7 linked regions of the Homo sapiens genome follow. The protein of the gene in region 4 interacts with the protein of the main gene of each other region in a biochemical or structural test. Each region holds a gene or a part of one and is shown on either strand. Other genes may lie near its edges.

Evidence for each region.
Region 1: of the proteins of FAM20C (region 4) and KNG1, one has a biochemical effect on the other in vitro, tested with the Homo sapiens proteins (one large-scale study listed by IntAct).
Region 2: of the proteins of FAM20C (region 4) and GOLM1, one has a biochemical effect on the other in vitro, tested with the Homo sapiens proteins (one large-scale study listed by IntAct).
Region 3: of the proteins of FAM20C (region 4) and SERPINC1, one has a biochemical effect on the other in vitro, tested with the Homo sapiens proteins (one large-scale study listed by IntAct).
Region 5: of the proteins of FAM20C (region 4) and PPP1R3A, one has a biochemical effect on the other in vitro, tested with the Homo sapiens proteins (one large-scale study listed by IntAct).
Region 6: of the proteins of FAM20C (region 4) and CARTPT, one has a biochemical effect on the other in vitro, tested with the Homo sapiens proteins (one large-scale study listed by IntAct).
Region 7: of the proteins of FAM20C (region 4) and SERPINA10, one has a biochemical effect on the other in vitro, tested with the Homo sapiens proteins (one large-scale study listed by IntAct).

The regions. Positions count from the first base shown.
Region 1 is NC_000003.12:186,716,155-186,720,158, reverse strand, and holds the start of KNG1 (kininogen-1 isoform 1 precursor), read right to left. Parts: upstream 2,801-4,004; 5' UTR 2,617-2,800; coding exon 2,422-2,616; intron 55-2,421; coding exon 1-54. UniProt on the Homo sapiens protein: Kininogens are inhibitors of thiol proteases.
Region 2 is NC_000009.12:86,093,059-86,096,558, forward strand, and holds part of GOLM1 (Golgi membrane protein 1), read right to left. Parts: intron 1-3,500.
Region 3 is NC_000001.11:173,910,828-173,914,327, reverse strand, and holds part of SERPINC1 (antithrombin-III isoform 1 precursor), read left to right. Parts: intron 1-2,313; coding exon 2,314-2,529; intron 2,530-3,436; coding exon 3,437-3,500. UniProt on the Homo sapiens protein: Most important serine protease inhibitor in plasma that regulates the blood coagulation cascade. AT-III inhibits thrombin, matriptase-3/TMPRSS7, as well as factors IXa, Xa and XIa. Its inhibitory activity is greatly enhanced in the presence of heparin.
Region 4 is NC_000007.14:195,571-199,070, reverse strand, and holds part of FAM20C (extracellular serine/threonine protein kinase FAM20C precursor), read right to left. Parts: coding exon 3,339-3,500; intron 1,939-3,338; coding exon of another isoform or gene 1,571-1,938; exon of another isoform or gene 1-1,570. UniProt on the Homo sapiens protein: Golgi serine/threonine protein kinase that phosphorylates secretory pathway proteins within Ser-x-Glu/pSer motifs and plays a key role in biomineralization of bones and teeth.
Region 5 is NC_000007.14:113,909,010-113,912,509, reverse strand, and holds part of PPP1R3A (protein phosphatase 1 regulatory subunit 3A), read left to right. Parts: intron 1-3,500. UniProt on the Homo sapiens protein: Seems to act as a glycogen-targeting subunit for PP1. PP1 is essential for cell division, and participates in the regulation of glycogen metabolism, muscle contractility and protein synthesis.
Region 6 is NC_000005.10:71,718,026-71,721,545, forward strand, and holds CARTPT (cocaine- and amphetamine-regulated transcript protein preproprotein), read left to right. Parts: upstream 1-1,249; 5' UTR 1,250-1,268; coding exon 1,269-1,427; intron 1,428-1,854; coding exon 1,855-1,938; intron 1,939-2,482; coding exon 2,483-2,590; 3' UTR 2,591-3,020; downstream 3,021-3,520. UniProt on the Homo sapiens protein: Satiety factor closely associated with the actions of leptin and neuropeptide Y; this anorectic peptide inhibits both normal and starvation-induced feeding and completely blocks the feeding response induced by neuropeptide Y and regulated by leptin in the hypothalamus.
Region 7 is NC_000014.9:94,290,469-94,294,505, reverse strand, and holds the start of SERPINA10 (protein Z-dependent protease inhibitor precursor), read left to right. Parts: upstream 1-1,237; 5' UTR 1,238-1,317; exon of another isoform or gene 1,318-1,827; coding exon of another isoform or gene 1,828-1,897; intron 1,898-3,862; coding exon of another isoform or gene 3,863-3,912; coding exon 3,913-4,037. UniProt on the Homo sapiens protein: Inhibits activity of the coagulation protease factor Xa in the presence of PROZ, calcium and phospholipids. Also inhibits factor XIa in the absence of cofactors.

The sequences.
Region 1 (4,004 bases), on a different chromosome or scaffold from region 4:
ACAATCCCCCTCCTTGATTTCGTACTTGAAGGAATAAAACGTGTCAGAGCCAACCTGAAAAGCAGCCAAAGATACTTAGGGTTCATCCAACTGACCCAACAGCAAATAATTCTAGTGGGTTCCGGTAAAGTTAGGAATATTGATCTTTGACTTGAGAGCAAAGCATTCACTTAAAATATATTTATATTTCTATCATAAACATTTATGTGAAAGAATGTTTATAATATATTCACAATGTACTTTTAAAGGTTACAAAGCAGTATGCATAGTATTAGCCCATTTTTGTCAAAACTGGTTTATATATAAATCTATGTCTTTTAAAAGTCTGGAAAGATACACAGCAAGCTGTTAAAATGTTTGTCTGTCAGTGGTGAGATTATAATTATCTTTCACTTTCTTCTTCAAGCAAACATTTCTTTTTTTTTTTTTTGAGATGGAGTCTCGCTCTGTCGCCCAGGCTGGAGTGCAGTGGCGTGATCTCGGCTCACTGCAAGCTCTGCCTCCCGGGTTCACGCCATTCTCCTGCCTCAGCCTCCAGAGTAGCTGGGACTACAGGCGCCCTCCACCACGCCTGGCTACTTTTTTGTATTTTTTAGTAGAGACTGAGTTTCACCATGGTCTCGATCTCCTGACTTCGTGATCCCCCCGCCTTGGCCTCCCAAAGTGCTGGGATTACAGGCATGAGCCACCGCGCCCGGCCCAAGCAAACATTTCTAAGTGGTCTTTTTCCCCTAATGAACGTATATGACTTTTACAAATTAGAAAAAGCAAACAAGAAAACCTTAAACAAATGTTAACAGTTATCTCTGTATGGTGGAATTAATTATGGGTGATTTTAGTACTTTTATTTGGTTTATTTTGTTTCCTACTTTTTCTTTTTTAAACAGCTTTATTGAGATATAATTTACATGCCATAAAATTTACCCACTAAAGGCATACAATTTAATGTTTTTTAGTATATTTACAACCATACCCACAATCTATTGGGTACCACACCACCAATAAACTGTTGCTTGAGATCACCATGAAGCAGAATTTCTCACATGACTGTACTAGATTATGAAAGAAAATGGCTCGATTTTACTTTCAGAAAAAATAACATGTCCACTGTGTTTATTTTCCTTTATCCCCATGTTGTCACATGGCTAGTTTTTTTTTTTCTGCTAAAGTAACCAATTGCTTGACATTCCCAGAGATATAGTCTTTTATAGTGAAATTTGTTTAAACATACTCTTGAAAGATTGGTATTTCTTTGAACCATGCATCCTGCCAGGATTTGTCTCCTGCTGGAGTGCATCATTGCAATAATATCAAAAACTAACTAAAACGTTGCTGTTAAACCCAGTACATTCAGCCATACAGACTTCTGTCTAATTCCGTAGAATCACATTAACCTCATTCCTCACTCCTCTTAGACATGCCCCATGAAGTACCCCCTCCCATTAAAGGTTTGGAGTTCTATAGTTTTTAGCCTAGGGCCAGAGACCCAGTGAATTCTTTTGCTGCAGTCTAACTAAATTCCTAAATTCTCCCTCTCTACTTGGTCCTGTTGAGATTTCTCCATCTACTTTTGTTTCATTTCACCCTAGATTCTACTTCTCTGATCATCCAGGAAGCCAACCTGCCTGAGGACGAGTCATACTCTGTCCTCCCACCCCAGGCCAGAGAGTGGTATCTGTCTTTCCACAAGTTGTAAGCTTCTACCTTTGATGATCACATATTTGGTAGTGCGTGATGGTGGTGGGTGGTGGGTGGCGGTGGTGGTGGGTGGTGAGGGGTGGTAGTGGTGGTGGGTGGTGGTGGGTGGTGGTGGTGGTGGGTGGTGGGTGGTGGTGGGTGGTGGTGGTGGTGGGTGGTGGGTGGTAGGTGGTGGGTGATGGTGGTGGGTGGTGGGTGGTGGGTGGTGGTGGGTGGTGGGTGATGGTGGTGGGTGGTGGGTGGTGGTGGTTGGGTGGTGGTGGTGGATGGTGGTGGTGGTGGGTGATGGTGGTGGGTGGTGGGTGGCGGTGGTGGTGGGTGGTGAGGGGTGGTAGTGGTGGTGGGTGGTGGTTGGTGGTGGTGGATGGTGGTGGTTGGTGGTGGTGGGTGGTGGGTGGTGGGTGATGGTGGTGGGTGATGGTGGCGAGTGGTGGTGGGTGGTGGGTGATGGTGGTGGGTGGTGGTGGGTGATGATGGTGGGTGGTGGTGGGTGGTGGGTGGTGGGTGATGGTGGTGGGTGGTGGTGGGTGGTGGGTGGTGGTGGATGGTGGTGGTGGTGGTGGGTGGTGGTGGTGGTTGTGGTGGTGGTGGTGGGTGATGGTGGTGGGTGGTGGGTGGTGGTGGTGGGTGCTGGTGGTGGTATGTGTGTGTGTGTGTGAGGCCTGGACTCCTAGTGATAGTACAAATCCCAAGTGACTTCAAGGTTAAACACAATTCACTCACCGTCTTAGTGGCTTCAGTTATGCGGTACAATACAAACTGGTTGTTACTTTGGTTTTGACTGTTATATTTCTTCAGAGCAGCATCCACAGCTTTAAATAAATCCTTGTCATTGCAGTCAATTTCCTCGGACTGTGATTCCTGGGTTAAACTTAGTAGCAGCCTGGAGCAGAGGAAAAGGATGGTAATTAGTTTCATGATCTAACAATCTCCCTCTAGGAGCTGAGGGATGGTTTCACCAAGAATCAAGAGCCAACTGGGATACTGAATTTGACAATCTCCAGCCTCTTGTTTCTTCTGTCCTCCTCTCTGCCTCAGAACTCAGGGCACTGGTTGGATTCCTGCTGCCAGACGCTAGTTGCCTTGTTCCCAAAGGTTAAATGGCTCTGCTGGGTTATCCAAACATATTTACAGCTAGAACATTGCAACACTGGGGTTGTTAACCTGCTCATTTGCATTTGAAAATCACGTGGCAGCACAGTGCATATTTCCAGGTGATTATACAACTTTATGTAGCAAATCAGAGCAGAATCTGATGAAGGAGGGGAAACAAGTGCCTACTAACTCGGTTATTCCCCTGTGACTTTTGCAAAGCCATTTTTGAAGGTCACTACATGGGTAAACAATGCAAGAATGAGTACAATGTGCAGACACATTTCATACAAAGTTTCTTTGCAGGATACCTACCTGCATAGAAGCAGACTGCTGTTAATTCTATTACATGCCTAAGAAGCTCATGCACAGGGGCATCCAGTGAGTTCCAGGAGTCCCATGCAGGACATTGGCACAACTGAAAATAAAATATGGGCGTCCTATCTGCTCTCTGGACAGGCCAGCCTTTCTCTGCTCAGTTGCATTAGTTCTGTAAAAGAAAATTGCTCCCAGGGTGGAGATAGAGGAAAAGCATAGGAAGGGATGGGTTGAGTGAAGCCCTGGATTCCCTATGCTTGCTTCTTTCTGGTTTGGTGTTGTTGGTTTGGCACAGAAAAAGATAGCCCCAAATATGGCTCTTTGGCATGCCGAGTACTTTGAACTGAAAGACATTAAAAAGGCTGCAAAAGCAAAGTCTCTTTCTTGCTTTCTCCTGCCCGTCTTTCTCCTGCTCCACTTCTCTCAAGGCAGGCCACAGAAGCTAGAATTTCTCTTCCCCAAGGCGGGTCATAGAACCCTTCTCCCTCAAAGCCAGCAATAAAACTTTATTATTCTTATTTTCCTCACATCAACACAGAGTGGGGAAACTATATTACAGAATGGTCCCCACCTGTAGACCAACATTGGAAAACTACAGTTGATAATCTCAGCAGAAGTGTGAGGCTTGATGGTATCAACATCCTTACTCCAGTAAAAATTGGCCAGGCACGGTGGCTCACACCTGTAATCCCAGCACTTTGGGAGGCTGAGATGGGTGGATCACCTGAGGTCGGGAGTTCGAGACCAGCCTGACCAACATGGAGAAACCCCATCTCCACTAAAAATACAAAATTAGCCGGGCGTAGTGGCACATGCCTGTAATCCTAGTTGCTCGGGAAGCTGAGGCAGGAGAATTGCTGGAACCCGGGAGGTGGAGATTGCAGTGAGCTGAGATT
Region 2 (3,500 bases), on a different chromosome or scaffold from region 4:
CAAGTGGTGTGTTTTCACATTAAAAATCACTTGATAGGCTGGGTGTACACAGTGGCTCATGTGTATAATCCCAGCACTTTGGGAGGCCAAGGCAGACGATCACCTGAGGTCAGGAATTTGAGGCCAGCCTGGCCAACATATCAAAACCCTGTCTCTACTAAAAATACAATTAGCTGGGCATGGTGGTGTGTGCCTGTAATCCCAGCTACTTGGGAGGCTGAGGCAGGAGAATCGCTTGAACTTGGGAGGCAGAGGTTGCTGTGAGCCAAGATTGCGCCACTCACTCTAGCCTGAGTGACAGAGCGAGATTCTGCCTCAAAAAAAAAAAAAAAAAAAGAAACAACAACAAAAAAACCCCAAAATTATCTGGGTGTGGTGGCACACACCTGTAATTCCAGCTACTTGGGAGGCTAAGGCATGAGAATTGCTTGAACCCAGGAGATGGAGGTTGCAGTGAGTTGAGATTGCGTCACTGCATGCCAGCCTGGGCGACAGAGCAAGATTTCTGTCAAAAAAAAAAAAAAATCACTTGATAAATCAGAAAAGGAAAAAACTGCATATTCTTACCTACTGGCTTAATTTAAAAATTCAACCTATTGGTTAAAATTATTATTTGCTTTTAAGACAAAATGTTTGTAATTTAACAAAGCCTTCTAATTACTTTTTTTAAAAGAAAGAAAAGGCATATGAAAATGGACAACATGCCAAATACACGAGCCCCTTGACCCTCCTAGTCAAATATTATGTTTAACATTTCCTTATTTTCATATAGGGCTTTAAATCAGAAAAGCAAATATATAGGAGCAATCGCGTCAGATTAGCATGTTTGACCAACATCAACCAGTGCAGAAACTGGGCTTCTCCAAACAGTGGTGGAGCCACACCTCTAACTCCTTCTCAGAGGAATGGCCCCAGCGGCTCAGCAGGAAGTTCAGAAGTCACTGCAATGAGCAAACAGACCTGAGCACACCCCGGCGCAGCCTGGAGTCCGGGAAAGAATCAGTCACCAAGTTTTCTGATGGCCTGGAAATATTCCACCCTGTCCCAAGAATGTCTCTAAGCCAGGGGTGAGCAAACTATGGCCCACAGGCCATATCCGGGCCTGGTTTTTTTTTTTTTAAAGTTTTACTATACACTGCCATAAATACTGCCTATGGCTGCTTTCTGGCTACAAAGTAGAACTGAAAAGTTGAGACAGAGACAGAGACTCACAGACCAACTCTGCCCATAGGGTATTGTGAGGATTAAACATTTACCATCTGACCATTTAGACAGTTTGTCAACTCTGCCTCTAACCCATTGGGATTAAATGACCAAGGTCACTGTGTTCTGCTTAAATTGCTTTAAAAACTTACTAGGAAATACACAGACTCTCTTCCTCTCACTTCCCCAAAATGAACACCATCTTTTCCCCAATGCTAGAAGCTGACAGTGTCTAAAGATTAAAACTTTTAAAATGAATGTATAGTGGTAGGTAGTAGAAACACCAAAAAGCGAGGTGGATGAGTGAAAATGAACTAGGGAACCAAATTCTTCCTGTTTTGAAATTTTCTGAAGAAAGGTTGAACCACCGTCAAGAATATATCCTGGGGCCAGCACGATGGCTCACGTCTATAATCCCAGCACTTTGGTAGGCTGAGGCAGGAGGATCACTTGAGCCCAGGAATTCGAGACCAGATTGGGCAATGTTATGCAGGGAGACCCTGTCTCTACAAAAAAATATTTAAAAAAGAATACATCTTGGGCCAGGCACGGTGGCTAATGCCTGTAATCCCAGCACTTTGGGAGGCCAAGGCAGGCGGATCACCTGAGATCGGGAGTTCAAGACCAGCCTGACCAACATGGAGAAACCCTGTCTTTACTAAAAATACAAAATTAGCCGGGCGTGGTGGTGCATGCCTGTAATCCCAGATAGTTGGGAGGCTGACGCAGGAGAATCACTAGAACCTGGGAAGCGGAGTTTTCGGTGAGCCGAGATAGTGCCATTGCTCTCCAGCCTGGGCAAAAACCCCGTCTAAAAAAAAAAAAAAGAAAAAGAAAAGAAAAGAAAAAAGAATACATCTCAGTAGGAGCTCAATTTTTCCTTGAGTCACAAACTGCCGCCCAAGGGCCCAATCCTGCCAGCCATCTATTTTTGTACACTGCCCACAAATTAAGAATAGTTTTTACATTTTTTTTCTTTTTTTTTGAGACGAAGTCTTGCTTTGTCACCCAGGCTGGAGTGCAGTGGCGCAATCTCAGCTGTCTGTAACCTCTGCCTCCTGGGTTCAAGTGATTCGAATGTCTCAGCCTCCCAGGTAGCTGGAATTACAGGCACATGCCACCACGCCCAGCTAATTTTTGTATTTTCCCTTTTTTTTTTTTTTTAAAATAGAGATGGGGTTTCACCATGTTGGCCAGGTTGGTCTCGAACTCCTGACTTGAAGTGATCCGCCCACCTCAGCCTCCCAAAGTGCTGGGATTACAGGCATGAGCCAACGTGCCTGGCCAGTTTTTACATTTTCAATGGTTGAAGAAAGTTAAAAGAATAATATTTCATGACAGAGTGCTTCAAAGGGCTGAGATAAATTCTCCACATATTCCTGGCTGCCTGGAAGATTATGCGCGCGTGGGAAAGACCCAAAAGAGCCCAGCAGGGCTGAAAACCAAGAAGAACCGAGAACCAGCTGAAACTTGCAGTGTTCCCCAACTCGCACACAGACCTACTGATAGAGGGATGGAGACTGACCTGGCAGGTGACTCCTGGTTCAGTGCTCCTTGGAGAATTTGGATGCCATGAAGTGATATTAGATGTCAGTTTAGCTACCTGTTATTTTGAGTGCTTCCTTAGCGGTACTGTTGAGGCAGTGTGGCTTAGGAAAAGAGTACTGATGTGGGTCAGGCCAAAAGGAATTTTAATCCTAGCTTTCTTACTATTTGCATGAATTTTGGTGAGTTGTATAATCCCCCTCTCTGTATCTTATTCAATCCTTGTAAAAGTCCATTGAAGTAGGCTTACTACTGACCCCATGTTCTAGGATGCAGTGATATGAGACTTTAAATATGTAAAACCTTTTGTTGTGAGGATTAAAAATTACAGCGGCAATAAAGTACACACCACATGATAACTGCTCGATAGGTTTTTTTTTTTTTTTTGGTTTGGAAATAAAAGGATATCTCATGACACATGAAAATTACATGAAACTAAAACTTCTGTATCCATAAATAAAGTTTTACTGGAACAGAACCATGCCCATTCATTTACATATTATCTGTGGCTACTGGGCTATAACAGCAGAGCTGAGTAGTTGTGACAGGGACCACAGGGTCTGCAACATCTAAAATAGTATCTGGTCCTTTTCAGAAACAGGTTGCCAACTCCTGCTGTAGTTCAATGGTCCTTAAAGTGTGGTCCCCATATTAGCAGCATCAGCATTACCTTGGAATTTGTCAGAAATGCAAATTTTGTGGCCGACCCCAGACCTACCAAGTCAGAGGTCTGTTTATTCCACTAATAAATG
Region 3 (3,500 bases), on a different chromosome or scaffold from region 4:
TCTTTTGAGCACCTTAAAATGGGGGAAGGCTTGTATCTTCTCTCAACTTCTTTTCAGTAATTCTTTCATCTATATGTTTACTCATTAATTTGATCATTTATTTATTTATTCATTCAGCACTTCCTCTGTGCCAGGCAATGTGTAGTGCCAGTCCCTCCTCTGGTGGAAGAAGAGTAGCTTTACCATATGGTGACATCAGGCATATAGGCTCTCGTGGAAAAAAATTCTAGGATAGTATTTTTTTTTTTTTGAGATGGAATCTCGCTCTATTGCCCAGGCTGGAGTGCAGTGGTGCAGTCTCGGCTCACTCCAAACTCTGCCTCCCAGGTTCAAGCAATTCTCCCACCTCAGCCTCCTGAGTAGATGGGATTACAGGCACACGCCATCACGCCCAGCTAATTTCTATATTTTTAGTAGAGATGGGGTTTCACCACGTGGCCAGACTGGTCTCAAACTTTTTTTTTTTTTTTTTTGAGACGGAGTCTCGCTCTGTCATCCAGGCTGGAGCGCAGTGGCACGATCTCAGCTCACTGCAACCTCTACCTCCCGGGTTCAAGCAATTCTCAGCCTCAGCCTCCCGAGTAGCTGGGATTACAGGCCCCCGGCACCATGCCTGGCTAATTTTTTTTCTTCTTAGTAGAGATGGGGTTTCACCATGTTGGCCAGGCTAGTCTTGAACTCCTGACCTCGTGATCCACCTGCCTTGGCCTCCCAAAGTGCTGTGATTACAGGCGTAAGCCACCGCGCCTGGCCTCAAACTCTTGACTTCAAGGGATCGGCCTGACTTGGCTTCCCAAAGTGCTGGGATTACAAGCATGAGCCACTGCACGGGGCCTAGGATGGTATATTGAGACCAGGGGCCCAGGAAAGCCAAGAGAAGCCTCAAGGACGTGAGAGTGTTTTCTGGCTCTGGGAAGTATGGATCATTTCAGCTCAGTGACTTAGTTCCCACCCCCTTCCCCCCACTGCCTTTTGTGGGAGGGAAGTAGGGCATGATAAGATGAAATGTCATAGATTGATTGATCACTGTTGGCCTCTGGGGCTATGACAAGTCATGGATGGAAACACTAGATCTTTAATCTGTCCTTGGCTTGGCTGCATGACAGTCTTTCTTCAAGTTGGATCACACTTTGGAAGCAGAGTTCATCAATAGGGAGGCATGAGTCCCTTCAAGATGGTATACGGTGCTTATTTGAAACTTGGACACTAAAGTCTGTGGGTCTTAGGAGGGTTCCTTCTATTCTAGTGGTCAATTTCCATGGAACTTCATCACCTTTGCTCAGGGCTCTGGGGTGAGTTAACCCAAGTCTTCACTCTTTGAAAGAAATTGTAGATTTAAAAACTCTGAAGACACATAATACTGCCTTCTCTGGGCCCTTCAGTCATTTTTGTATACATTGGTACTGGTCTCAAAGTACTTCCATATCACTCATGTCTCTGTCCCCAGGTAAGATCTTAAATGTAACCCTTCCTACAAGAAGAACAGAACAGAACACTGCTTCCAAACCACACATGTTCCTTTGGTCCTCCCCTCTACACAAACGCCATGTGTTGGGAAAGCAGGGTGAGACTGAATCTCTCTGGAGAAAAGAGAGATTCAGCACCAAGCTTTTGATCAAAAGCATAATCCCCCCCTAAAAAAAGTGCCTATTGGAGCAAAATCAGGAAAACCAAAGGCAGAGAACAGATAAAACCAAAAGGCCTTTTGTAGCCTGAGGAGAGAGCATGGAAAGGGCAGGAGGGGAACAGCCTCACCCATTTTGCCTTGGGGATGGTGAAGGTGGGCATTGGGGGATTCCAACTTCAAAGCATGGATGACTTCTAAGTCCTTTTCAGCCCTGAGCTCTTAGATTCTGAGCCTGTTTAATCCCTTGCTGATAGATTCACTCTTCCTTTTTCACCCCTACCACCAGTATCCCAGAGCCTCCATGAGCAGCTGGCCCCAGTAGATGCCACAAAAGTGTTTGTTACGAGAAGGACACCGTCCTGATTCTCTTCTCTGTCCAGAATCACCAAGAGGACTTTTCCCATTCCAGCAAGAAAACGTCTGTGTGTTGATCTAGAGGCGTTTAGAGACTTTAGGTGGCAACCTAGTCTCTCTTTTTCCCTTTATCCTTCCTACCCTTCATTCTTCTTTTATCCTTTTATTCATCAGAACACAAGAGTTGAGCATTTATGCTGTCCCAGGTACTGTGCTTGAAGGAGTTAACAACTGAGGTGGCTATTAGTCAGAGACTGACCAGCATGTGCTCACCACCCATGTTAACTAGGCAGCCCACCAAACCCACCACCATTTTTTTTTGACTTCTATAGGTATTTAAGTTTGACACCATATCTGAGAAAACATCTGATCAGATCCACTTCTTCTTTGCCAAACTGAACTGCCGACTCTATCGAAAAGCCAACAAATCCTCCAAGTTAGTATCAGCCAATCGCCTTTTTGGAGACAAATCCCTTACCTTCAATGAGACCTACCAGGACATCAGTGAGTTGGTATATGGAGCCAAGCTCCAGCCCCTGGACTTCAAGGTGAGTTGCAGATGTTACCCCTGACCTCCGAGTTCTTCCTCTCCACTCAGAGATTGAGGAGGTGGAGAAACAGCATCCAAATTCACACTGCTTTGCTGCTGAAGACTGCTGGAGGGCTGACTAAAAGTTAGAACCCCTGCAATAGTTATTCTTACTTGAAACCTGAGAAATCAAAGGTATCCATGCTTGGATTGTAGTGACTGCCCAGAAAACATGAATTAATAATCAATTCTTCATTCCATCCACCAACTTCAAATATATACCAAAGGGTGTTTTGAAGATGCCAGTTCTACAAGATATCTTACTTAATTTGAACTGTTATCATGGTCAAATAAAGTTGGTACATGATGCATGTTACATTCTCCTCTTGGAGATTCATGAAGCACATGGGCCTATGAAGGTTCTGAGAAACTCTGCAACAAAGAAATCTGTTGGCTTTATTCAATCGGCATTCCTCAAATGTATTTGACTGCATGGGCATTTCTCTCCTCCATATAACCTGCCAACCCCATATAACCTGCCAACCCCATATAACCTGCAATCATTCATTGCTTCCCCTGGCACATGCCTTGGAAATTCTACTTTTGTGAGTTAAGGTTTTCCAAAGTCAGAGAAAATAATATTTTATCTTCTTTTTCCCAGACTATTTTCGCCTTCCTTCTTTTCATTTATTTCTTCCTATTTCTTTTTGTTCTTTTTCTTCTGATAATATTTATTAACTACAGGAAAGATTCATGGAACTATATTAGATATGTGAGGCTTCCCCAATTTGGGTTAGAGCAATGGCTTCTTAATCAAATGGTGGGAAAGGACAGAGGGATGGTGAGAAAAATAAAATGCTGCCTGGGAAAATGGAGAAGCCAATTGAATAGCACAGGTGAGTAGGTTTATTTTCTGTTCTCCTCAGGAAAATGCAGAGCAATCCAGAGCGGCCATCAACAAATGGGTGTCCAATAAGACCGAAGGCCGAA
Region 4 (3,500 bases):
GTTCCCTGCAGACCAGGAGACCTGGACCTGGACATGGAGCAGCTCCCATGGCACACTTGGTTCACAGGTGAGGGTCCCCTGCTTCCTCAGGAAGACAGACCTCTTCACAAATGAGAACTCACCTGTGAGCATCTCCAAGCCCAAGGCAGCAGGGAGAATAGGGCCCAGCATCTAGACTGAGACCCTCATGAGGCTCAGGCACCTGCCCAGCCCTGGCTTCCCCAGATGAGAAGGATCAGCCCACCTTGAAATGCTGCTGCTGTACAAAGACCCCACCCAGTAGGAGAGCTTCCCCCAAAATGCTGCAGTGTTGGAGACCCTGCCCAGCAGGTGCGCTGTCAGGCTCCGCTCTCACCTCTTTACTCGTATTTGCACATTTAAGCCCCAACAACCCTGTGAGGCCAGATGTATTTGGGAACTGCAGGTATTTCGATGACAAAGGCACACGTGGTGCATGGTGTGGATCATGGCATGCCCACACGGGTCTAGGGCAGAACCCCATAATTAAACCCACTCCTGTTCCTCAGAGGAACATGTGACTATTCAATGTAACAGAGAAAAATCAGGACTTTTAACTAGCCTCGACAATTTAGGTTTTGCCCCTAAATACGTTCAGCCTGAGTCAGTTTTCGCTAGTGAATGGGTTTTGCTTGGCATTCAGATTTGTAAGTCAGAGTCCAGATTATACCAGGTCCAGATTATAACCTTCTCTGTGTTCTCGGTGAGAAACCAGGTGCTGGAGGCGTTAATCCATTTGCCCACTTCCACTCTGGCTAATGGCTGGCAGAGCCAGGATTCACCCCCAGATCTCCTGGGCCAGAGCCTGCTGTCCTGCCTGGGTGATGCGGCTGTGTCTGCCCATCGTCCTTGCAGGCCCTGCTTGGCCCTGCAGAATGACTGAGCAGCCAGCCTGTCCTTGGACGGGTCCCCACCCCAGAAGACTGGATGAGAACCAATGTGGCCAGCATGGTCTAGGAGGCGAGCGAGCGAGATCAGCTGGGGCAGGCCTTCAGTAGGCACAGGAATTAACCAGGACACACCCAGGCGGAGGCCACACCAGAATCCTGGGGTAGGGATTCCCTGGCAAGGGCTCTGTCCACACCCCTGCAATGTCAGGCAGCCTGGGCACCACTGCCCCGGGACAGCTGGACCAAAGAGGGGTGGCAGTGAGCCAAGCCTAGCTTGTCCAGATGGACAAAGCACTCCTAAGGTGGGCAAAGATGCCCCAGGTCCCAGGGGGCCCCACACTCTCCCTGAAGCTGCTCTGGGAGCTCCTGGCACAGAACTCCCACACCTCTTCAGTGTTGGTGTTGGAAAGCTGACCGGTCGGTGAGGGAGGTGGCGAGCTGCAGTTGCCTGCCAAGGGCCTGGTGGCCTTTGGAATCCACAAAGCCCTCCCTCTGCTCAGACCCTGCCTGTGCACACGAGGGGACTGTTGTGGAAGGCCACGCACAAAGTACTAGTTAATATTTAACAAGCTTGCTCACATGCACATCTCATCCTATCCTTGCATTGGTCCCACGCAGCGAGATCCCACTGGACAGATGGGGAAAATGAGCTGGAGAGAAGCTCATACGGACAGCGGCACTGGGGACTTTCTAACTTGCGTGCTGCTCCTCCCGAACGCCCTGGCTGGTGTGCACGGCTCTCTCATTCCTCTCCCTGCCAAGACGGACCCACCTGGAAGGTAAGCTGCCCGACAGACCCTGTGGAAGGTCCTCAGCCCCTCCCAGTGGAGCCCCCTCCTCTCCACACGGCCTGGCTGGCGTGCACGGCTCTGAAGTGCTCGTTCCTCCTCAGGATCGGGCACTGTGCGTGTGTGTCTCTTCCTGGGGCTGTCAGGTCCACAGAGGCAGCAGATCTCGTTGAGGCTGAACTCATCCTCAACTCCCCACCACCCAGAAAGGGGGTCTGACATGCAGGAGGTGCCAGTAAAATCTGCTGAATGGACAAACATGTTGATCAATGCATCGGATATTTCCTTAATGGCCATGCTCACTCTCAGGGGCAGAAGGGACGTTCTGGCTGTGGCTGTCTGCAGGACTGTTCCCCAGCACAGCTGAAAGCCCTCAGACCGCTGCAGGGGCAGGAGAAAGGCAGCGCTTTCACGGAGGGGGGCCTGGAGGGGGGCAGGGGTTCAGGTTACTCCCAGGCAGCATGGAGGGAAGAGGACTCCCAGCTTGTCCAGCTGATCTCTGTTATGAGGTGAGCTGATCAAGGGGTGGGGAGAGAGCTGCAAGTTCTGTCTCCCCATGACCAGGTGAGTGCCCAGCAAACAACTCAGCACCCGGCAGAGAGAGCCAGAAACAGCCCCGAAGAGCTCAGGAGAACCTACCTGCTGGCCTGAAAGGGGACACCTAAGTCCTGTGTCAGCAACTGGACAGAACCCCAGGCTGCTGGGACCCTTTCAGCACCAAGGTTGCTTCTGAGACACACATGAAGCTAATGCCTGGGACTGCTGGCCTCATCACACAGCGCAAAGAAAGCCCTGCCTTCAGGCTGTCATGGCCTCTGCACCTGCCCACAGCTGTGTGCACCCAGGCCCACTCCCTGCAATCCCCGGGGAGCAGCTGCTCCCACTAAAGGGCCTCAGCCCCGCCCTCACTACCTCTCCAAGCACTGGTGACAAATGGGACCTTCACAAACAATCGCCTACAAGCTGAGAACAATGGCACCAAACCTCCACGCTCAGAAGCTGCAGTGGCATATTTTCCTGAAATCAGCAACTGGATGCCCTTTTTTGTCCAATTCAGCAGATCCCAAAGTACCTGGAGATGTTGCCTTCAAACTCCTCCATCTGGGAGGCCCAGGCCTCCGTCCTGAGCCCTGCCTATGTCTCCTCAGTATGAAACTGCACAGCGCCTTGCTGAGGTCTGACGAAGGACGGCTTCAAAACCACAAGAAGCAGGCTCATGGCTGTCTCCCCACCCAGCCAGGGTCGTGTGTAGAAAAGCAGGAGAGTTCCATGCACACGCTTCCGGTGGAGGGGTCACCGCCGCCAGAGATACCCCTCTATTCCTCTACCCCAGGAGGGAAGGACTCTGTCATCCAGTTGGCACCCCCGGGACCACCCAGGTGAGGACGCAGAGCGCAGTGGACCGGCTGTCCAGGCGTCTCCCCGCTCATCGTGCGGCAGATCAGGAGCACATCCAGTGTGAGAGCACACGAGACGCGAGCCCTCTGTCCCTCCTCGCTGCCCGTGCAGATTGCTGCAGGAGGTGACGCTGCCGTAATGAGCAACGGCCTCCCAGACCTCTCTAACACATAGCCTGCCCCAGCAGCCCTGATGCCACACAGCCGGCACACAGACGGCCCTGAGTGCACCCAAGGACACCTACCCACGCTGGTGATCCTCTGGGAGCTGAGGTCGTGCAGCAGGGCCTCGATGGCCGGGTTGTGTCTGGAGTACAGCTCGTACCGGTTGATACCAATGTGGAACTTGAGCCAGTTGGGATAGGAGTCCACGGCCGCCTCCCCGGGGGAGAGGAATTCTGCACCTT
Region 5 (3,500 bases), about 110 Mb from region 4:
CTTAAAAAATCCTCTATAATCTGACACCTCATTTTGTAACCTTGCCTAAAATTTACATATATGTGTTTGTGTATATATATATGTGTGTGTGTGTTGTATGCTTATATATGTATGTACACATGCACACACATGTGTGAGATTTTCCTTCTTAAATGGAGACCCCTCGAGGGTGGCAGGAGCTATTTCAATCTTATACCCATTGAGGTCAGTTGCACAGAGGCACTTTGAGTTTGGATTGAGAAAATGGAAATGTCTGATTTTAGAGCAGAGAGCACTACAGAATACAAGGTAGATTTAAGTACGTTGTGATAGGGTTCCATAGTAGTATGAGACTCATGGGGTCTGAAGTACATGTGTATATGGAGGATGGAGAATTCCAAAAACATTGAAGCATAATGGAAACAGCAAGGGCTTTAAAGTAAGGCAAGACCTTGAGGCTTTAATTCTAACTAATTACTATCTGCTTGACTTGGATAAATTATATTTTGTATCTATTTTATTCAAGTGTAAAATAGGGATAATAATTTCTACTTGGCAGAGTTGCTATGAGGAATACATTAGCTAACACATACAAGCATCTATTCCAGTTGCTGACATTTTGTAGATACTCAAAGTGGTAGTATTAATGACATTGGTGATAAATTCCACATTTTCCAATCTTGTGTATGGCTAGTACTGTGCCCAAGATTAACGGAGAAATGCTGTTTTCCCTCATCATTCCTGCTACCAGGACCCAGGCTAAAACAAATAGTTTCAAAATTAATCATGTTATGGTTCAATAAGTCTTGGGGGACTAGCCAGGGAGACGAGTATTTATAGCATTGCTTCTATGGGTAAATGATTTCCAAATTTTAGCAACTTCTGGGTCACACACAAAAAAAGCTTTGGAACATCACCTGTTCATAAATTGGAAACTGAGGACATGTTTTTCTTAAGGTAGTTCTTCTGAAGATGGTTCTTTTGGACTAAATATCTGAGTTGATTGCACACAATTCACCTTATTATCTCTTTATGCCTATGAATAGAAGATGAAATTGAAGTTTATATAATTCTCTTCTTCTAAGAAAATACATTATGCAACATCAAATTTCGGTCATTCCTCTGTTTTAAAGCATTCTATGTATCCCACAACTATACGAAAAGGAATATATCTCTTTTCAGAGTATTATCTCTCAAATCTTTTCTGGTGTCCATTCTGCTGCTTCAATAGCTTTACTAGGTTAACTAGCATGGTAGTGTTATTATCTGTTAAATAAAAATAACAACTGGTTTTGAAGCCTTAATCATGCCATCCTGCTGTTTAAAGATCTTATGATAAAAAGATGAAAACAAGGAATTTGCTAAATTTAACTGTTATACTGCATTGCTCAGGGACAGAGACCAATTAAACAAACCTGTCGTAGGAAATTCTAAAATTCCCTCCACACCAAGTTACTCTGAAAATGATCTGTCTGTGTTGTATATCAGCACTATTCAAGTCACAACTATGAATTGAATTTTAATATTGTAAGGTAATGGTTGTCTTATGTGTAGTCATGGTTTTGATTTTTATTTACACCTTTTGAAATTTGCAGTAGTAAAAAGGATTCAAGTACCCTCCCCATTGATATTTGTAAATTATACTGAATAGTGAAAATGCTTTTCCTAATTATGTGAAAACATTTCTTAGCCCATTGACACCATCAGAATATCATCCGTGGTATTTAGAGAATTAAGCCATGGTACAAACCTAACCTATTGACTATAAATCTGTATGAATAACCTCCAGCTGATTTTCATTTCTAAAAATTACTGTGGATGTGTTAACACAATTACAAATCACATAGAGTTGCTAAGATAAATTTCAGTTTCACAAACTATATTTGAAAAACAAAATATAGTCTATCAACCTCACCTTTTGAAGATTAATATTTATAAATAATTTTATTATATGTTAAAACAACTTAAATCTTGTAAGTACTTACCAATAGAAAAATTGAAGTTTTAAAAAGTCACATTTAGCTGCAGCAGAAAATAGATTATATTGTTCACATATAATCTTAAGTAGGTGCATAAGATTATTGTGTTTATTGTATTTAGTATTTAGTGTAAATATAGTTATAATTATTGTTTCCAATGTTAATACAGTACTTGATTTCTGAACAGTTTTTGTTGAATCCTTTTGTAGGAGAGACTATCTAATTCTATCCTTTGCTTTTAGCAGTATTCAGAAAACACCCAGGTCAAATGGTTATATATTTTCTTCTTAATCATCTTGATATGGTTTGGCTGTGTCCCCATCCAAATCTTACCTTGAATTGTAATAATCCCCACGTGTTAAGGGTGGGGCCAGGTGGAGATAATTGAATCATGGGGGTGGGTTCCCCCATACTGTTCTCGTGGTAGTGAATAAATCTCGTGAGATCTGATGGTTTTATAAATGGGAATTCACCTGCACAAGCTGTCTTGCCTGCTGTCATGTAAGATGTGCCTTCGCTTCTTTGTCTTCCGTCATGATTGTGAGGCCTCCCCAGCCAAGTGAAACTGTAAGTCCATTAAACCTCTTTCCTTTATAAGTTACGTAGTCTCAGGTATCTCTTTATTAGCAGTGTGAGAACAAACTAATACATATCTCTTGGGAAGATTATGTTCTTCAATAATGTGTTCTATCAGAAAAGTTCCATGACTTTAATGTAGCCACTTACGTTGTTCTGTCTTTAGTCATTTATTTACTCTTTCAGTTGAATTAAATGTTGGAATCCCTATCCTTATACATTAAAATCAAGCAAAATTATATTGTTTCTCTCACAGACTTCTATTTTCCATGTCAAATAACCTCAATAACTTTGTTTTTCCCTTGAGGTCTGAATTAGTTAACTAGAAAACAAGTTTGTAGTGTTTTAATGCATACGCCAGAGAAGAAAAAACTCCATCATCAACTGAATTCTCATAAGGGGTGAATGACATCACTATTACCAGGACCATACATTGTCAACACTGATGGATCAGGAATAGCCCAATTGGTCAACAGGAGTTTAACTAAGGCACTCTCCAAGCCCTGCCTTCTTTGTTTGAATTCTCAGTGTTGGAGGTACTATTATTACAGTATTTCCTCTGGGAGTCAGAGAAGGAAAGGAAACTTTATTTTATAAAATTAGAAAGTTAAAAGTACTTCAGAAGATCGCTTCATTTATTCTTCTATCTTACCTAAAAAGATAGCTATATTAGAATTCTTGAAAACTGTGGACAAATAATGAGCAATTAAGAATTAAAGTTACACTATTTTCTAGATACCTAATTTTAAAATAACATTTCTTTCCAGAATGTAACTGTATAAATAAAATGCTGAACATAACTTTTTAGCCATTATTAATTTCTTTTTTACATTTTTATTTTATTTTAGATTCAAGGGGTCCATGTGCAGGTTTGTTACATGGGTTTATTGCATAAGGCTGGGGTTTGGACTTCCATTCCTCATATTGTAAATGTAGTAATCATGAGGTGGTTTTTCAAACCTTGCT
Region 6 (3,520 bases), on a different chromosome or scaffold from region 4:
CTGTCTAGGACTGGGTTGTAGTAATGGGGATGGAGAAGAGTGGATGAATTTAGGAACAGTTGAGGGAAAGATGGTGTGGTGAAGGAAGCCAGGTGAGCAAGCAGGTCTAAGCGGGAAAGCATTGCTTTTCCTACAGGAATTTTCCTGTGCATTCAGGCTGTAAGGATCTCAACTTTTAAAAAAGCCACATTGTTCTCCCAAGTTGTTGGGGAGCTGGTTCACCATTGACTTCTGATCTCTGGAGATATTTTCATAATCATGGAGCTGTCTTTCTTTTCACTCTTTTACTCTCTTTCTAGACAGGCTTCTTGGATACCAAGGGTTGGTGGTGGGTGGGGGGAGGTTCTGGGGATGGTTAAATTTGCCTGGGCAGCCTCAAAGTTCAAAAAGGAGGGACAGGGAAGCTTAGCTAAGAACCAGGAGTTTGACATACTTAATCTCTCATTTCATCCTACTGATGACTTTGTGAGGTATATCTTTTTAATCCTAGATCTACAAAAGAGAAAGCTGAGGCTTGGAGAGGTTCTTCATTTTGTTCAAAGTCATACAACTTTTACGTGGTGTAGCCAGGATGGGAACCAGAGCCTGGCTCTCTGCACTTCCAACACCACTGCTGAATCCGGGTTTGTCTGTTTTCCCTCTCTTCTTTTAACTATTGTCACACAGATTCCATCATAGAACCCATCACGTGGAGGGCCACTATTTCTCTTTCTTTTGTATAGTATGTTTGCTTCCCCTACCCCACAGAGTAAGGTGCTCAGCAAATGTGGCTGTCTGGAGGCAACACCCCCTTCTCACCGCCACACTTGGGGTTGGGGTGCGAGGCAAGGCAGGGCTGGCGAGGTGGATGTTGCAGCTGTCACCACTGCTAGGTGTTGGGAAACGACTCTCCTGCCTGTGCATTGACCCGAAGGCATTTTCCATTTCCTAGGCCCCTCCCGCTTCCCGTCCCTCACCTCTAGCCCCTCGGCTTCAGCTCAGGCCCCTCGGGGAGCATCCCTTGCCGTGAGACTGACAGCCTTTGGGGGCGCAGGGTCCTGTTCTCTGCGCTCTAGCCCATCTGTGCGCAGAGCCTCGTTCCCAGGCGCCTGGAACCCGGCGGGCATTGACGTCAAGCGCCGGCGGAGCGCTGCCTACAGACGGTTGACCCGGGCCCTCCTCCACACCCCCTTCCTTCTTCGCCTCCTCCCTCTTTCCTGCACGGGGGCTCGGGCTCACTATAAAAGGTGGGAGCGCGTGGTGCCCCAGCAACGACGAGTTTCAGAACGATGGAGAGCTCCCGCGTGAGGCTGCTGCCCCTCCTGGGCGCCGCCCTGCTGCTGATGCTACCTCTGTTGGGTACCCGTGCCCAGGAGGACGCCGAGCTCCAGCCCCGAGCCCTGGACATCTACTCTGCCGTGGATGATGCCTCCCACGAGAAGGAGCTGGTCGGTATTCCCCTCGCTCTCGACCCCCTTGAGCTGTCGCCTTGTCTCTTCTCTTGCACGCCTCCCTCCTCCCCCCACCCCCACTCCTATTCCCAGAGTCAGGGCGCGGGGAGCTGAGCGCAACGCCCAGGCACCCACTGCCATCCGAAGAGCGTCTCGAGCTCACGGGCTCCTGGCAGTCTGTTGAGCGAATCCCTCATCCCGGCCCCTCTGAGCAACAGGGACCCCAGCGGCTCAGAGACCCGCGGTCAGTACCTGGGACAGCGTCCGCTAAGTTTCCACCCCTCGACCATTCCCTGTGTCCGCGGAGTCCCACCGCAGAGTGCGTGTGGGTCCGGGGCTCCTTATAACTAGGGCTGGAAGTGCGCACCTGGGCTGGGCTCGCAGCCAAGGCGGCAACTTCAGGCTCCGAAGCGGTGTGTTGCAGATCGAAGCGCTGCAAGAAGTCTTGAAGAAGCTCAAGAGTAAACGTGTTCCCATCTATGAGAAGAAGTATGGCCAAGTCCCCATGGTAAGGTTTGTGGTCACTCCCTTCCCGTGTTTTTCCAAGAGAAAGTACACCGCCTTGAATCGTACACACAGTCTTCTCCGTAGGATGTGGCTAAATAACTTAGGTAATGGGCTTGCAGGATTCTGTGGGCTCCTTCTTCCTTCCCGGGTGAGGAAATGGGAAAGCAGGAACAGGGGTTGTAAGAAAGTGTAAGTCTATTGTTTGTTGCTCAGGAAAAAGGTCTGATTTTTTTCCCCTCTGAGAGGGCAAGAAAAGGAGCCAGGAAATGTGATGCTCCCCTTCCCACGCCCCCCAACCCTCGCCACTTAAAGGTGGAAGAAACTAGGATAAAACTAATAATGTAAGTTTCTTTAAAAAATGTACTCTCACTGAGGTTATAAGCACAAGGCTCCCTGTTTCAGATCTGACTGTACGTAGACCTCTTGTGATGGTGATGGGGTCCAATTGCCCCTTTCAAGAGACAGAAATTGCGTTGACTGTGAGACTTGCCTGTTGGGAACCTGGGTTTGTTCATACTCGATGACCACACATTTTGTTGTTTCAGTGTGACGCCGGTGAGCAGTGTGCAGTGAGGAAAGGGGCAAGGATCGGGAAGCTGTGTGACTGTCCCCGAGGAACCTCCTGCAATTCCTTCCTCCTGAAGTGCTTATGAAGGGGCGTCCATTCTCCTCCATACATCCCCATCCCTCTACTTTCCCCAGAGGACCACACCTTCCTCCCTGGAGTTTGGCTTAAGCAACAGATAAAGTTTTTATTTTCCTCTGAAGGGAAAGGGCTCTTTTCCTGCTGTTTCAAAAATAAAAGAACACATTAGATGTTACTGTGTGAAGAATAATGCCTTGTATGGTGTTGATACGTGTGTGAAGTATTCTTATTTTATTTGTCTGACAAACTCTTGTGTACCTTTGTGTAAAGAAGGGAAGCTTTGTTTGAAAATTGTATTTTTGTATGTGGCATGGCAGAATGAAAATTAGATCTAGCTAATCTCGGTAGATGTCATTACAACCTGGAAAATAAATCACCCTAAGTGACACAAATTGAAGCATGTACAAATTATACATAATAAAGTGTTTTTAATAATTGCCCATAGTGCACTGCTGTTTTCATATAAGTAATTTAAGTGGAAATGGTGAGATTAATCATGCTGTTGTTTTCAAAGAAAAATATTTTAAAAATAGCAGCCTATTGGGAAAATGGCACCTTAGCTCCAAGGAGTTTTGATCGTTAATTAGAAGTTTGCCAAGCCAGTTTTAGTATACTCTATTTTTCTTTGATTGCAGCGATGTGGTGTGTGTATGTGTGTGTGTATGTGTGTGTGTGTGTGTGTGTGAGAGAGAGAGAGAGAAAGAGAGAGATGAATGAGATGGAGATGGTTGGAGTTGAGGTTATATAATTTTGTTTATTAAAACCTTTAGCCAGACCCTTTACTTTAAACAGTGAGACCAATAAACTATAAACAGTTTCATGTTTTAGTCACATTAAAAGCAATTTGAAAAATTAGAAATTTTGTTTTGACAACTCCCTTATTAGAAAATATACATTGATTTAAAGATATGGGCTGTTTAGGGTTGTTATTTGTCTA
Region 7 (4,037 bases), on a different chromosome or scaffold from region 4:
AAAAGGAACACTCTGGAAACTTGTTGGGACACTTCTGCCTTTCACAAACGTTTGGGGGGAGTACTACTAGCATTTAAGGATTGAGGGTTAGCAATGCCAGACATACCAGAACACGCAGGGCAGTCTCCCATGATGAAGAGGCCGCCGGGTTCCCCAGGACTCACATGTCCACCTCAAGTTCACGTGGGATTATCTGAGCCTAGACTGTCAGTCCTGGGGCTGCTTTATTTCATATAAAAATATAATATTTATCCAAGGTTTTACTACACACTGCATTTTCTGTGAAGACAATGACCGTGTAAATCAGGGAAAGATCTATATTTTATTTTGTTTGAAACTTTACCAAGCATTATTTACCATTTCAAAAGCTCTATCCCTGGTAGTACCATTGGTTTTCTTGTTCACCGGCCAGCAGTGAGCAGCACACAAGCGACCTCCCGTGGGCTCCACATTGGACAGCCTCACTGCACCTGCCCAGGCCCTTAGGCCACAGCACTGCCATATTCAGGGACACATTATTCTCTTTTATTATGCCTCCATATTATCATTACAGCATTATCTTTTTTTTAATTTTGTGGGTAGATTATATTAGCTATACGTTTCACTTCAATGGTAGTAGTAAGGGGCACATAACAAAATATTTACTTATATATATTAAAAAAGAGAGTCTGAGAAGTCTGAAAAGTTTTGCCATAAACGGTCTCCACCAGCCTCAACTCTGAGTGCCCGAGGATTCAGTCTCAAGTCCAGCAACATTGTGAAGCAGGAAATTTACCTTGAAAGGAGCTATGTACTCTAAGTAGTGATTTACCTGTCTGCCTCCCCCACTGGATTGACCAGTTCCTTGGGGGCTGAGAGAACAGGTCCTGAACATTTCTGCTGTGCCCCCCAACCCACATCCTCATAGTGTCCAGTACCAGGCTGGGGACTCAGGAAGCATCCATGGGATCCCCCAGTGCCTTCTTTCTCGAGGTGTTCAGCACCTAGAACAGCTCAAGACAAATTCCCCACACCCCACCCAGACAGAGCTGAATCTTACTGGGGCGAAGCCTTGAGTTGCAAGGCAGAAGCTCTCGTGATGGGATTTGGGTCATATTCCGGGTTATAGGAGGAGCTGGGGAGTATGGGAAGCCTCCCACTTGGTCTTTGGTTTTCCAGAAACTCCACCATCACAAGCAGGATGTTAATCAGTAACCGTCCCACAGGGGATCATACTTTGGAATAGCAAATATTTGCTGAAGGTTCTGGGCTGCAAAGCTGAAGCTTTGGTTTCTGCTCTAAATGAAGGACTTTTCCAGGACCCAAGGCCACACACTGGTAAGAGGCAGTGGGTTACAGGAGACCTTCAATGAGTCTAATCAGGGAGGGACCGGGAAGGATGGTATCATCCCTGGGCGGGCTCCAACGTGAGGGCTGTGTGGCTGAGCAGTGCAAAGACCTCCATCCTACACTCCACAGGGACTGTACATACAGATTGGGAGCTGGAGTGGGGTAAGAGGCGAATTATAGACACAAGGGGCTCCTCTGCAGGAAGGAGGCCAAGGGAAAGAGGCTTGAAAGGCTTGATATTTCACCCACCACCACTCACTGCCGGAGTAAGCAGGTCTCCCCTTCCCAGGGCTGAGGGGAGGCAGGGATGTGTGCTGTCCCAGGGCTGAGAAGTGGCAGGTGAGCTGGTGATTCCTTACTGCCCAGGTTCTGTCTAGGAAGGTGCGTCCTCACCATGCTGGATGGTGTCCTAGTCCAGGAGCACCCCCTGAGCTCCTGGCCTAGACTCCAAAGGGTTGGGTAGATGAGCAAAGACTTTACAAAGACCTTAGGCGATATATGTCCAGGAGCACCCAGGAATTACTGGGCTACCACTGCAGACTGCAGGACAAGCTCCAAGAACAGGAAGGTAAGACTCAGCATTTGGAGGTGGTGACATCTAGTTGGCGTGCTGGGCTAATTTCCTGACCATTGTACAGGGAGAAGTAACCTTGAATTCAGGAGTATTCTGTGTGGTCTTAATGTAGAAAGTAGCACTAAATGATGCCACGTAATCGTTTTAGCTCAGGCTCCTCTAACAAAACACCACAGGCTGGGTGGCTCCAACAGCCATTGATTTTTCACAGTTTTGGAGGCTGAAAGTCCGAGTCAGGGTGCCAGCGTGGCCGGATTCTGGTAGGGCTGTCTTCTTGGCTTGCAGATGGCCACCTTCGCACCGTGTCCTCCCATGGAGAGGAGGTGCGGAGGGGGACTCTGCTCTCTTCTTATGACAGCACTAGTGCTATCACAGGGGCCTTGCCCTCACGACCTCATCTAAACCTAATCACCTCCCAAGCGCCCCAACTCTATTGCCATCACAATGGTGGTTCGGGCTTCAACTTATTAATTCTCAGGGGACACATTCAGTCCATAACAATAAAAGCGTGAAACTGGGCTGCGTTTACACTGAAAGAGCTATTTACCCAACGTTTACAATACTTGGGTGACCTGTTGAATGCAGGCTTGCCATTTAGAGTCAAAAAGAGCTTCCTCAACAGTGTCCTTTGGGAAACACAGTGGAAGTATTTCACTGCTTCTACAGGGGAGAGGGTAGTGCCGTTCAGACTGCAGAGTGAGGCCCTGAATTCCGGGGTGCCATTCAGCCCGAGCAAGGGGCAACATGCTGGGCCCTGGCGCTGGAGGCGGTTTTGTCCCAGGCATAGATAAGGACTCAGCCCCTGCATCAGGAAGAGGCCTGGCAGCACCGCCTGTCAATACATTTTGCCGCAGGTGACCTTGGTCAAGAATAAGGGTCTCTGCTGATGGGAACTACTGTGAGGCCGGCAGCATCCACCCTGCGCTCACTGGGCTGGGTGGCCTACCCCACCCAGACCCTCCCAGGGCAGTGGGCCCAGAGAGAGGATGAGGGAGGGCAGGTGTCCCAGGGGTTCTGCCCAGCCAGCCTCTGGGATCAGGCCTGCAGTGTGGCTGAACACCAGAACTGAGTTTGGACACAGCCAGGTGGCCCAGGCCAGTCCCAAGCCATGTATTTGGATGGAAAACATGGAAGTATTCAGGAGCCAGGCTCTGTGTCCAAGGATGTGGAGGGAGCCTAAAAGGCGACAGAGAAGGGGACAGCTAACGGTGAAGAAGTGTAGCTCCCACACTGCAGCCTAGGACAGTGAGAACCGGCATGCAGCCCAGGTGGCTGAGGGCTCTATGAAGCCACAGTGGAGGGAGCCCAGAAGTGGGTTGTATGAATTGCGGGGCCTCCTGCTACCCGGGAGCTGCAGCTATAGGAAGGAAGGAAGGAAGGAAGACCTCCAAGGAACTGTGTAGCAGAGGTGCAGTGCAAAGAGAATTTTGATAAAAAATCCAGGAAAGCTCCAATACTTTCCCCCTTCCTTGCCTAACGGGCATGCAGGCACTCCAATCCCCAGCCAAACAGGGCACTGGGCAAGGCCGGCCACCCATCTGGATGGGCAGCCTGACGACCAGATGGTCAGGGCAGTGAATGAAGCAGATCAAGGAAAGGTGTGTGAGGACCCCTGATTCCACCTGCTTGGACCCCCACCTTCTGTGCTGCCTCCTGCTCCCAGAGTGGACTCTCTTGCCCTGGCCCTCAGGGAGGAGACGGGATGAATGAAAACGGGGTCAGGACTGAGAGCTGCCTGCCGGCCTGGCAGGGAATGGGAACTGGAGGAGGTTTTGCTCTGTGAAATAATGTCCCCTCTTTGGGTGAGCAAATGTCACCCACACTTGCTCTAGGTCTCCCTGGGGCAGGGCTAACCTACTTGAGCCACAGGAAGGAGGCAGGGTCCCTGAAGAAGCTTTTACTATCCACAAAGACATTTTAGGAGGCATTAAAACCATCTCTATCCTCTCCTCTCCACAGGAAGTCTTGCAGCTGAAGGGAGGCACTCCTTGGCCTCCGCAGCCGATCACATGAAGGTGGTGCCAAGTCTCCTGCTCTCCGTCCTCCTGGCACAGGTGTGGCTGGTACCCGGCTTGGCCCCCAGTCCTCAGTCGCCAGAGACCCCAGCCCCTCAGAACCAGACCAGCAGGGTAGT